Linked DNA regions of Homo sapiens. The protein of the gene in region 1 interacts with the protein of each later gene in a pairwise test. Each region holds a gene or a part of one and is shown on either strand. Other genes may lie near its edges.

Region 1 (3,657 bases):
AGTTTATAACTCTTCCATTGAATTCTTAACTAGTCAGTATGCACGAATGGCCTATACCAAATATAATTTCAGCTCTGATATTTCAAAATACATTGGGTCCCTTAGGTTGAGCTAAATAAGAAACAGGAAACCTAACAGGTCTGCCTTTAGGATCTTCTCTCAATCCAGTAATAGAAACCCATACACCAACTTAGAAATTACAGACACTAAGATAAAGTGCAAACATAGGGGGTCCAGTAAGTATAACATGGGGTGCTGCTTTCTGACACCCACAGCATGAAATTCTATACAGCAATCCCCAGAGGTTTAAAGTCATGTTGGGTTACAAACCTAAAATCTGAGTTACTAAAACTGGCTTTTCTGACACATAGTTAAGGCCACATTCTATTCTTTGTTTTATGCCCAGCTGCGATTTGTTTCTGGGTCGAAAATGAACACACGTAATCAAGTTATAAGTAAGAAAATATGTCTCAATCCAGTTTGTTTTTCAAACAAAGTTAACAAACGCCCCTGGCATTTTGCTAATTTACCTCTACTGGTTATATTGAGGTATCAGAGGGACGCTCATAGGACCCACCTGAACCCTCGAAAAGCAGGATTGTCTCATTATTTCCCAAGACCATATGCGTGAAGACCTTGCCTACAACATCTATTAACTGTTTCCTAGGTATCAAGCACAATCCTACTCATAAATATATTACATAAAATATGTAATCTCAACAGCACCATGGGGTAGTATGCCATTCACATTCTCCTTTTACCCATAAGGAAATCCTACTAGCTGAGTTCGTGGAGCTGTACTATGAGCAAAGGCCAAGTCCAGCAAAATTCAGTAAGGCAGGAAGGCACCACAGAGGGGATAGAAGGAACTCCACTGAGAAGCCGGCAATGGGGCAAAGCTCTCAGCCCAGGAATGTTATGCGCCTGGGTTACAAGGATGGTGCCACCTGGGGTAGTTCAGAACTCAGGTGTTGAGGGAATAAGGAAGAAATTCAGTATTTTGAGTATCCTCTGCCTCTCAACATTTCATCTTCCTATTTGCCAGAGAAGCTTTTTACCAAGAGAAAGCAATGAGCATACAGTTTAATGATTTCATTCTTTTTCTTTTCTTTCTTTTTTTTTTTTTTTTTCTTGAAATGCAGTCTCAGTCTGTCACCTAGGCTGGAGTGCAGCAGCAGCACAATCTCGGCTCACTGCAACCTCCGCCTCCCAGGTTCAAGCAATTCTCCTGCCCAGCCTCCCGAGTAGCTGAGATTACAGGAGCCTGCCACCATGCCCAGCTAATTTTAGTATTTTTAGCACAGATGAGGTTTCACCATGTTGGCCAGGCTGGTCTTGAACTCCTGACCTCAGGTGATCTGCCCACTTCGGCCTCCCGAAATGCTGGGATTACAGGCGTGAGCCACCATGCCCAGCCGATTTCATTCATTTCTGTTACTTCTAATTTTGAAAGACATCATTTGGTATAGAAAGTTAGAAGTTGGAACTTCTAAGATTAAAATAAAGCAGTTAAAAAAATACAGCAATAGACAATCCATGCTGAAAAGTCACTTCAACTAAAAAAGTCACTAAACCAAAGCTCTACTGAAAAGGCCGAGACTGACTTTGCATTTCTCCACAACTAGGAAATTCACTAGAATTTTGTAGCACAGCAACAAAATTCAGACCAATGCTGAAGGCACTGACCTCAGTTCTATGTGTTTATGTATTAACCAAACACTAAAACTGACCTCTGTTATGACATCTCAGAAAAAAGCTAATTCTGGAGCTGTCCTTTAAAGACCGGGTGTGGTGGCTCACACCTGTAATCCCAGCACTTTGGGAGGCCGAGGTGGGTGGATCACTTGAGGTCAGGAGTTCAAGATCAACCTGGCCAACATGGCAAAACCCCGTCTCTACAAAAATTACAAAAATTAGCCAGGCGTGGTGGTGCACACCTATCATCCCAGCTACTGGGGAGGCTTGAGCCTGGGAGGCAGAGGTTGCAGTGAGCCGAGATCAGCCACTGCACTATGGCCTGGGCAGAGTGAGACCCTGCCTCAAAACAAAACAAAGCAAAACAAAAAACAAAAAGCAAACAAAAAAGCTGTCCTTCAAAGAAAACTCGATGCCACAAGGGCGAAAATGACAGGCTTACCGATTAATATTGGCATAGAAAATAACCATAAACAGTAGTAGAGAGAGGAATTTCACTGAGTTTAATCTGGTAAATATTGGACAAGAATTGAATTTCAAGGAGACTTTGCACATTGGGTCATGGCAGAGTATAAAAATCCCACCTCCACAGCACACCCACCCAGAATCCTTGGGCAAGTTATTTAATCTCATCGTCCTTCCGTTTCCTTTAAAATAAAAAAATTTTTTTAAATGTCAATTTAATGGGAATTTAATGTGAGGCCATGTGAGTACAACATTTTACATTTCCAGGGACTGCAAAAATGTTAGTTCCTTCCCCCATCATTTAGTTTGAAAATTCTTAGATAATTCTTTGCTGGTAAATTCCAACAGAATAGTTAGCACACAGGTTCCACACACACAAGTTCTAGAATCAGGAATCTGAAGCACCACAATGAAAAGAACATTTAACATCTTTTAAAAATGTTTAATGTTATCAGAAAGATGTTTGGTATATGTGTTCCATGCATGCTCCTGCTGGTTCTATTTGAAAAAGAAGTTTTTACAGTTATCTGTTGTCACCATATTGTAAAGGTAAAATCTCTACTTCTTCGCTCTGAATATTTTACTACTTAAGATTCTAAGAGGTTTTCAGTCTTTTTAAATATATTAACAGTCCATTCTGCCAAGAAATCAGTTTCTACACAGAGATAAAAACCAAAGATTAGTTAAATCCATTCCTCCCAATTAGAACGAGTATTGGAGTGATCAGAGAAAGAGAAGAGGGGGCTGTGTGTGGTGGCTCACACCTGTAATCCTAGCACTTTGGGAGGCCGAGGCGGGCAGATCATCTGAGGTCAAGAGTTGAAGACCAGCCTGACCAACATGGAGAAACCCCGTCTCTACTAAAAATACAAAATTAGCCAGATGTGGTGGTGCATGCCTGTAATCCCAGCTACTCAGGAGGCTGAGGCAGGAGAATCGCTTGAACCTGGGAAGTGGAGGTTGCGGTGAGCCGAGATCGCACAATTGCACTCCACCCTGGGCAACAAGAGCAAAACTCTTGTCTCAAAAAATAAAAATAAAGAGAAGAAATGTAATTGCATTTTTTGCTGTCCCCTCACCACCTCTTCATCACTTGGTCCAAGGAAACAAGAGAAAAGTGTTTTGATCACCAAGATGGAAAAGGAATCCCAATTCTTTTACTCATTTAATGCCTCAAATTTCACGTGTAAAGGGTAAAAACCTGGTCTACAGCTTATCTTGGCTAATAAGCTAAACACACCATGTTAATGAGAGAAGCTAACATTGTCAAATGTCATTTTGTTTTGCTACTTCCTGCAGAAGAATACTGTTTGTTTATCATATGTCAAATAGCTTAATAGAGATACTAACTTACATCTTTAAAATCCCCCACAACTATCTTGTGACTAGTTTTATTCCCTTCCACCTTATAAAACCAAGCCTCCATCCAATTAATCCCACCTGGCTAGAAACAGCTATTCTGGAAGAAATGTGATAAAGTTCTGCTTTTCGGTGAAG
Region 2 (3,657 bases), on another chromosome or scaffold:
TTGGATTATGTGGTTTGTGTTTCTTTTCACTGTAGCTGCTTGTTAAAGCAGTATACTCAATCTCTGATAAGCAACAGTAAATTTGATCGATTTGTATCCTAAATTTAGCTATCACTTTACATTTTGTTTTATTCATAATATGAACTTTAGCTTCTAAAAATCAACTTTTTAATAGCTTAATATATAAAGCCATCTTAAATCAAGGAATATCTATAGGGACTTAAGGTAATATTCAACTAAATTGGCAAGTGACTACCATTATCCTATTAAAGCTCTAAAATGCAATATTTCAATCACAGAAAAAAAATCTTATAATTTAAAGAACTATAAATTGCCAGATGTTTCCCTAGTTATTACGTTAGTGACAAATTAGACAACTGGAAATAGAAAACAGAGTATATGTTTGGAACAGTCATAAAAGGACTAGTGACTATTGCTGCTAGCTGTGGTTGTATTAACATTAAAATATTTGCTATGGGATTTTTCTTCTTATCAAAGCAGATGCTCAGATGAGGAAAAACTTTCTTGCATATGAAAATCAAAATTGTCTTCCAAAATATTTAAGTAACAAAAAATTCATTATGTAGTATAAATGCTGTATGATTACATTATTCTTATAGTTAATTTAGAAGGGTTTGAATTTGTTTTTGTTTTGTTTGTGTTTGTTTCTTCGATAGGTGCATTCTCTAACTGTCTTAAGTAGAAACAAATGTCTAGAATCTCTCAGTGATTATCAGTCTCCTTCCTATTACCAAGAATGTTTTTATTGTGTTGTTAATCTCACATGTAATTTTTTTAACATTTAAAAGTTTGGAAAATGGGTAAAAAATGAGTGTGCCTTGTTTCCTATTATTACAATGTGCCTTCCTATTTCAAGTCCCAATTCTAGATTTCCTTAAAACTTAAAATCATAGAATTAATAATCTTTCAGTTTAAGTCAACTTTTGTGTGATTTCTTGTCCACTTATACACACATAGATGCCTTCATCTTCACCAAATAATGTAGAAATTTTATTTAGTTCAATGGATTTAAGTACTCTGTATGCTTAAGTACAAAATAAGAATATTGAGAAATACACATATGATTGTGTACCTTTTTTTTTTTTTTTTTTGAGACAGAGTCTTGCTCTGTTGCCCAGGCTGGCGTGCAGTGGCATGATCTCGGCTCACTGCAACCTCTGCCTCCCAGGTTCAAATGATTTTCCTGCCTCAGCCTCCTTAGTAGCTGGGATTACAGGTGCATGCCGCCACGCCCAGCTAATTTTTGTATTTTTAGTAGAGAAGAGGTTCGCCATGTTGGCCAGGCTGGTCTCAAACTTCTGACCTCAAGTGATCTCCCTGCCTCGGCCTCCCAAAGTGCTGGGATTACAGACATGAGCCACCTCACCTGGCCTGATTTTGTACTTTTAAAGAGAATTTGTTGTTGCTAATTTGCTAAGTTTATTTAGATATTTTCTGATTCTATATTAGTCAAAGCTCCTCTTATCTACTTTGGAAAATGAAGAATTATGTCTATAAAATATATCAACAACAGCTGCAGGTACTTACAGAGGAAATACTGTGGATCTGAGTGATATTAGGCCCTGAGGATACAAGCCAAAGTATAAAAATGGTCTTTGCCGTAGAGAGATAGTAGTCAAGCTAAGCACATATTTTGGCATGGGTCTCTAATAGCCTAATGCTAGTAGGGTGGGAAGCCATTTAAAAATGGCCCCTCCTTCTGTCCTGCCTTTCAGACCAGATGGTGTGTCTAAAGTGGTCACACTGTTTGGTTCTGGCCACTTCTGTAATAACCACTGCTCCTTTCCCCTCCTCGTGAGATTATAACTCCTTTGACAGTATGGATGGCACCTAACGCATCCTTGTTTTCTTTTACTAAATGTTCCACGGAGTCACTTGCTTGCCTGTTTGTTGCTTATTTGTTTGTTTTTGGCTAAAACTACAGAAAATGTTAAATACATTTTCAGACCTTTATATTTTAAAAAAGAAATGTTAAGAAATAAATAATTTTTCTAATCTCATTTAGATACACTGTCCTATTACACACAATGACAAATTTGATGCTTTTGTCTTGCTAATTGAAGAGCTAAGCATGAATACAGTTTTTCAGTCTACAGCAGCAATGACAAGGGTAAAGTGGAGAAAAGAGTAAGGAAAGAAAAAATTAAAAAGAATAAAAGGTTGAAATATCAAATCGGTGGTTCTTAAGATGACAGAGGCAGGTGAGACAAGAATACTGGAATCACCCAGGGGGCATATGAAATCTGTACATTTCATCCACACCTTCTTTTCTCCCCCTGTCCTCATTCCCCCTGTTGAGACACATTGTATTACAAATTAGGAGGAAACCATCTAAAATTATCTCACGTATCCCAGTTCCCATATTAGCATCATGAGTATCACCTGAGAGTTTGTTGGAACTGCAGAATCTCAGACCCTGTCCAGACCCATTGATTGCATAAGAATCTGCATTTTAGCAAAATCCTCAGGTGATTCAAATGCACATTAAGGGAAAAGAAACACAGTGTACCGTACCTGTGGCTTGTTTAGAATAATTATGAAGAGGTGTTTTCTTGGCTCTTAACTAACGTTTTTAATAAAGCTAATATTTATTGAGTACATAAATGTGCCAAACACAACGTTCAGTCTTTCTTTAAATTTTTTTTATTTAATCCTCACAACAACCCTGTGAGATAGTTTCTGTTTTATCCTTATTTTATAGATTGGGATACCAAGTAATAATGAGATAAGTAGTTTACCCAAAAGCTGTAACTGATACAGTCGAGATGTAAACATAAGAATTCTAATTTCATTGCCTGTTCTCTTAGCTGTTACCTACAGTGTCTGCTCTATACTGGGCTACCTACTTTTTAAGGCCAACTAATTATTTGAAAATTTATTTAAAGTTTTAATTTGAGATCAAAATCTGTTTCCCTCATAAATTTTTTTTAAAAAAAGCAAACAAGATCTATTCCATTTTGATCTAATGTTTTCCTGTCACCTTACCTTTAAGTGCAATAATGGGAAATTCTAGAAATTCCTTCTTTAACTGTTTGAAAAAATACCAAAACTATGACAGCCTGTCCAAATCCACTAAAATATATTTTTATATGCATGCTTTTTGTATATCAATTATACTTCAATAAAGCTTTTTAAAAAAATAGTAGATGACATACTTTTAAAAATTAACTTTGGAGCCCAGGTATGGTGGCTCAGACCTGTAATCCCAGCACTTTGGGAGGATCACTTGAGGCCAGGAGTTTGAGACCAGCTGAGGCAACAAACTGAGACCCCCATCTCTACAAAAAATAAAAAATTGCCAGAGCATGGTGGCGCACACCATGTAGTAGTTGGGACCTGTAGTCCCAACTACTCAGGAGACTGAGTTGGGAGGATTGCTTGAGTCTGGGAGGTGAAGGCTGCAGTGAGCCATGATCACACCACTGCACTCCAGCCTGAGCAACAGAGAAAGACCCTGTCTCGAATAATAATAATAATAATAACAACTTTTGATATCTCTATTTTTTCCCATAAAAATCCAAAATTTTCTGTTTACTTTTTGGTGCTCTCATGCTATAAAGTAAATTCTCCCTTGGATTGGACAAGTTATTTTCTGTTTTCTACATACACATAGACTGTTCAGCATTCCAACTCAAA
Region 3 (3,657 bases), on another chromosome or scaffold:
CCTATGCGATTCTGGGCTTTGCCCTGTCTGAGGCCATGGGGCTCTTCTGTTTGATGGTCGCCTTCCTTATCCTCTTCGCCATGTGAAGCTCTGTGGGGGTCACCTGCCTGTCCCTGCTGCTGCGGCTGCACACCATTCTTGGTGCTGGGCTGTGCTAAGCTTTACCATTGAACACAACGTTTCTGAAAAAAAAAAAAAAAGAGCCAAGCATACAGTGGAGCTCAAAGGGACTTAGAGATAATTTTAAAAAGACTTAGAGATAATTTTAAAGAACATTTTCCTTTTTAAAAATTATGCAATACTCCAAGCATTCAGAAAATGATAGAGAATAATAAAACGAACACCCATATACCGATCAATCATCTTTTTGAACTTAATATTTTGCCTTAATTATTTCAGATATTTTAAAGAAAAAATATAACAACAGTTGCATTGCTTTGTATGTATCCCTTCACTGCTCACTCCACTGTCCTGTTCCTCTTTCTTCCTCCCCAGTGGTAACCATTATTCTGAATTTACAATTTCTTCATTCTACTGACAAGAATACTGAGGCCTGGAGAGATTGAGTGATTTGCTCAAGGCCACAGAATCTGTTTATGTCACATTTGGGACTAAAAACCAAGGTTCTTATCTTCAATTTAGACTTTGTTAATTAGCTCAGATCTGAGTAGGTGGCAGTACAGTGGGGAGTGGGCAATTCAAACCAAAGACAAACAGAGAGGTCACAACAAATATTGTTTTGTTCTGCTATGTGCTAAGTTTGTTGTTGTTATTGTTCTGTTTTGTTTTGAGATGGAGTCTCGCTCTGTTGCCCAGGCTGGAGTGAGTGCAGTGGTATGATCTTGGCTCACACCAACTTCTGGCTCCCAGGCTCAAGCAATTCTCCTCCCTCAGTTTCCCAAGAAGCTGAGATTACAGGCGTGTGCCACCATGCCTGGCTGACTTTTGTATTTTTTAGTAGAGACAAGGTTTCACCATGTTGGCCAGGCTGGTCTTGAACTCCTGACCTCAAGTGGTCTCCCAAGGTGCAGGATTACAGGCATGAGGCACCGTGCCCAGCCAGTTTTTGAAATTAGGCATTTTATTAGGAAAAGCCGTATAAATGGTTATGTGGGTTTGCAGTAGAATTTACTTTCAAGTCAGCTCCACCAGGAATAGTTTAAAGATCTCATAGGCATCTGTAAAGAATAACAAACGTTGCCTATATTTACAGCCATACAGTCTTATTTTTAAGGTTTGATCTATGCAAATACAGTATTATATATACTTCATGTAATGTGTAACATGTAGATTATAAAGTATATGAATAACTTTTCAAAGGAACACAAACTCTTCACAGGACAGTCTCTGGTTTCAGTGCAATACAGTTTGGATCTGAGTGGATGATGAATTATAAGCCATAATAATCTGACACTGTGTCAAGAGCAAATTTGTGTATATATATATATGTACATATATATTTATGTGTTTGCCTATATATGTGTATATATGTGCATGTGTGTATATATGTATGGGGTATATATATATAGTATGTATATATAAGTGTGTATATATAGGTGTGTGTATATGTATATGTATGTATATGTATGTATGCATATATATGTATATGTGTATATATAGGTGTATGTATATATGTATGTGTATCTGTATATATATAGGTGTAGGTATATATGTATGTGTGTCTGTATATATACATGTGGGTATATATGTGTGTGTGTGTGCGCGCGTGTGTGTATATATATATATATATATATTTATGCATGTGTAAATTGAAAAGTAAGCAGTCCAAATTTTCCCTTTTACAGACAGACACCAAACCAGTGCAGATGATGAACATGGAGGCCACGTTCTGTATGGGAAACATTGACAGTATCAATTGTAAGATCATAGAGCTTCCTTTTCAAAATAAGCATCTCAGCATGTTCATCCTACTACCCAAGGATGTGGAGGATGAGTCCACAGGCTTGGAGAAGGTAAGGAGAAGGCAGGTGCTCTCCACAAAGGCACCCCCTGCCTTGGCAAAGAGTTGTGCCAACAGGTCTGTGTGGGCCGTGAGAGCTGGGCCGGTAGCCCTCCCTTATTGCCACTGGCTCAGTCACCTCCAAGGACCCATGGTTCTTTCTGGGGCCTTTCCTCCTTAATATTAACAACAGCCAAAATTTATTTGGCACTTACAGTGTTCTAGGGACTGTGCTAAGTTGCCTACGTGCATTATCTCATTTAATTCTTACAGCAGGCTGATGAGTTAGAGACTGTTACCACACTCTTGTTTACCAGTGAGGGAGCTGAGGCACAGAGGGGTGGGTAACTGGTTACATAATTAGTCAAGGGTGTGTGCAGGATCAGGATTTGGGCCCAGGTAGTTGGAGCCAGGTTCTTAACTGAAGGCTAGAGTGTCTCCCTCACCTCCTAGGCAGTTAAGGCACTACGTTGCTACGCACTGCCAGGTCCACTATCATGTGACCTGATGTCAAGCATCCTCTCTCTTGCTCTTTCTTTTTTTTTAAAATTAGTAGATGTTATTTTTAGAGTAGATCTATGCCTACAGAAAAATAAGCAGAAAGTACAAGGAGTTCCCATATACTCCCCTTCCCGTCCCAGGCCTACAGTTTCACCTGTTATTAGCATCTTGCATTAGTTTGGTATGTTTGTTACAATTGATGAGCCAATACTGACATATTACTATTATTATTATTATTATTATTATTATTGTTTTAGAGACAGGGTCTTGCTCCATTGCCCAGGCTGGAGTGCAGTGGCATGATGGTAGCTCACTCTAACCTCAAACTCCTGGGCAGGCTGGAGTGCAGTGGCATGATGGTAGCTCACTCTAACCTCAAACTCCTGGGCTCAAGTGATCCTCCTGCCTCAGCCTCCCAAGTAGCTGGGACTAAAGGCACACAGCACTATGCCTGGCTTTTTTTTTTTTTGTAAAGGTGGGATCTCACTGTGTTGTCCAGGCTGGTCTTGAAATCCTGGCCTCAAGCAATCCTCAGCCTCAGCCTCCTGAAGTGCTAGGATTATAGGCATGAGCCACCACACCTGGCCTTCACAATTTACGTTACGGTTCACTCTTTGTGTTGTACATTTATGAGATTTTAATACGTACACATATATGCTTCAAAATTTTGAATTATGCAGATACTATTTTATAGTACACATTATATATAAGTATTTTATTTTATATGATAAGGGTTATTATATTATTTTATTTATATAGATTTTTAAGGCACAAAGTTTAAATAAGAGTAGCAGTTTTCTCTGCAGGTGAATGGAGTTTTAGCTTCCTCTCTGCTCCCTCACCTCTGCTTAGCTGGCTGAGGCCTGTTCTCCCTTTAGTCCCTCCCTGGCTTCCATTCTAGCTCCACCCCGCCTGGCCTCAACCCTTGGCCAGGAAGGAAGAAGGGGCTCTTTGAAGGCCTGGATCACTTGCTATATATCCACATGGGCCTCAGTGATTTGCTGACTTTCCAGGGGACCATCCAGTCTCCAGCTTGCTCCTTTGGTTGCCATTATGTTTTAGCCACCACTTTATTAACTGAATTATAATTCCTGTCCTTCTTCTTCTTTGGTGCATTACTCTCTCTGTTTTTTTTCTTTCCATTTTATGCTTTGATCTTTCAGCCATTATCCAGCTGTCTTGGATTTTACCTTTCG

Evidence for each region.
Region 2: the proteins of BASP1 (region 1) and AGTR1 interact in a two-hybrid assay, tested with the Homo sapiens proteins (one large-scale study listed by BioGRID and IntAct).
Region 3: the proteins of BASP1 (region 1) and SERPINB5 interact in a two-hybrid assay, tested with the Homo sapiens proteins (one large-scale study listed by BioGRID).

The regions. Positions count from the first base shown.
Region 1 is NC_000005.10:17,269,545-17,273,201, reverse strand, and holds part of BASP1 (brain acid soluble protein 1), read right to left. Parts: intron 1-3,657.
Region 2 is NC_000003.12:148,700,884-148,704,540, forward strand, and holds part of AGTR1 (type-1 angiotensin II receptor), read left to right. Parts: intron 1-3,657. UniProt on the Homo sapiens protein: Receptor for angiotensin II, a vasoconstricting peptide, which acts as a key regulator of blood pressure and sodium retention by the kidney.
Region 3 is NC_000018.10:63,497,315-63,500,971, forward strand, and holds part of SERPINB5 (serpin B5), read left to right. Parts: exon of another isoform or gene 1-189; intron 190-1,805; coding exon 1,806-1,973; intron 1,974-3,657. UniProt on the Homo sapiens protein: Tumor suppressor. It blocks the growth, invasion, and metastatic properties of mammary tumors.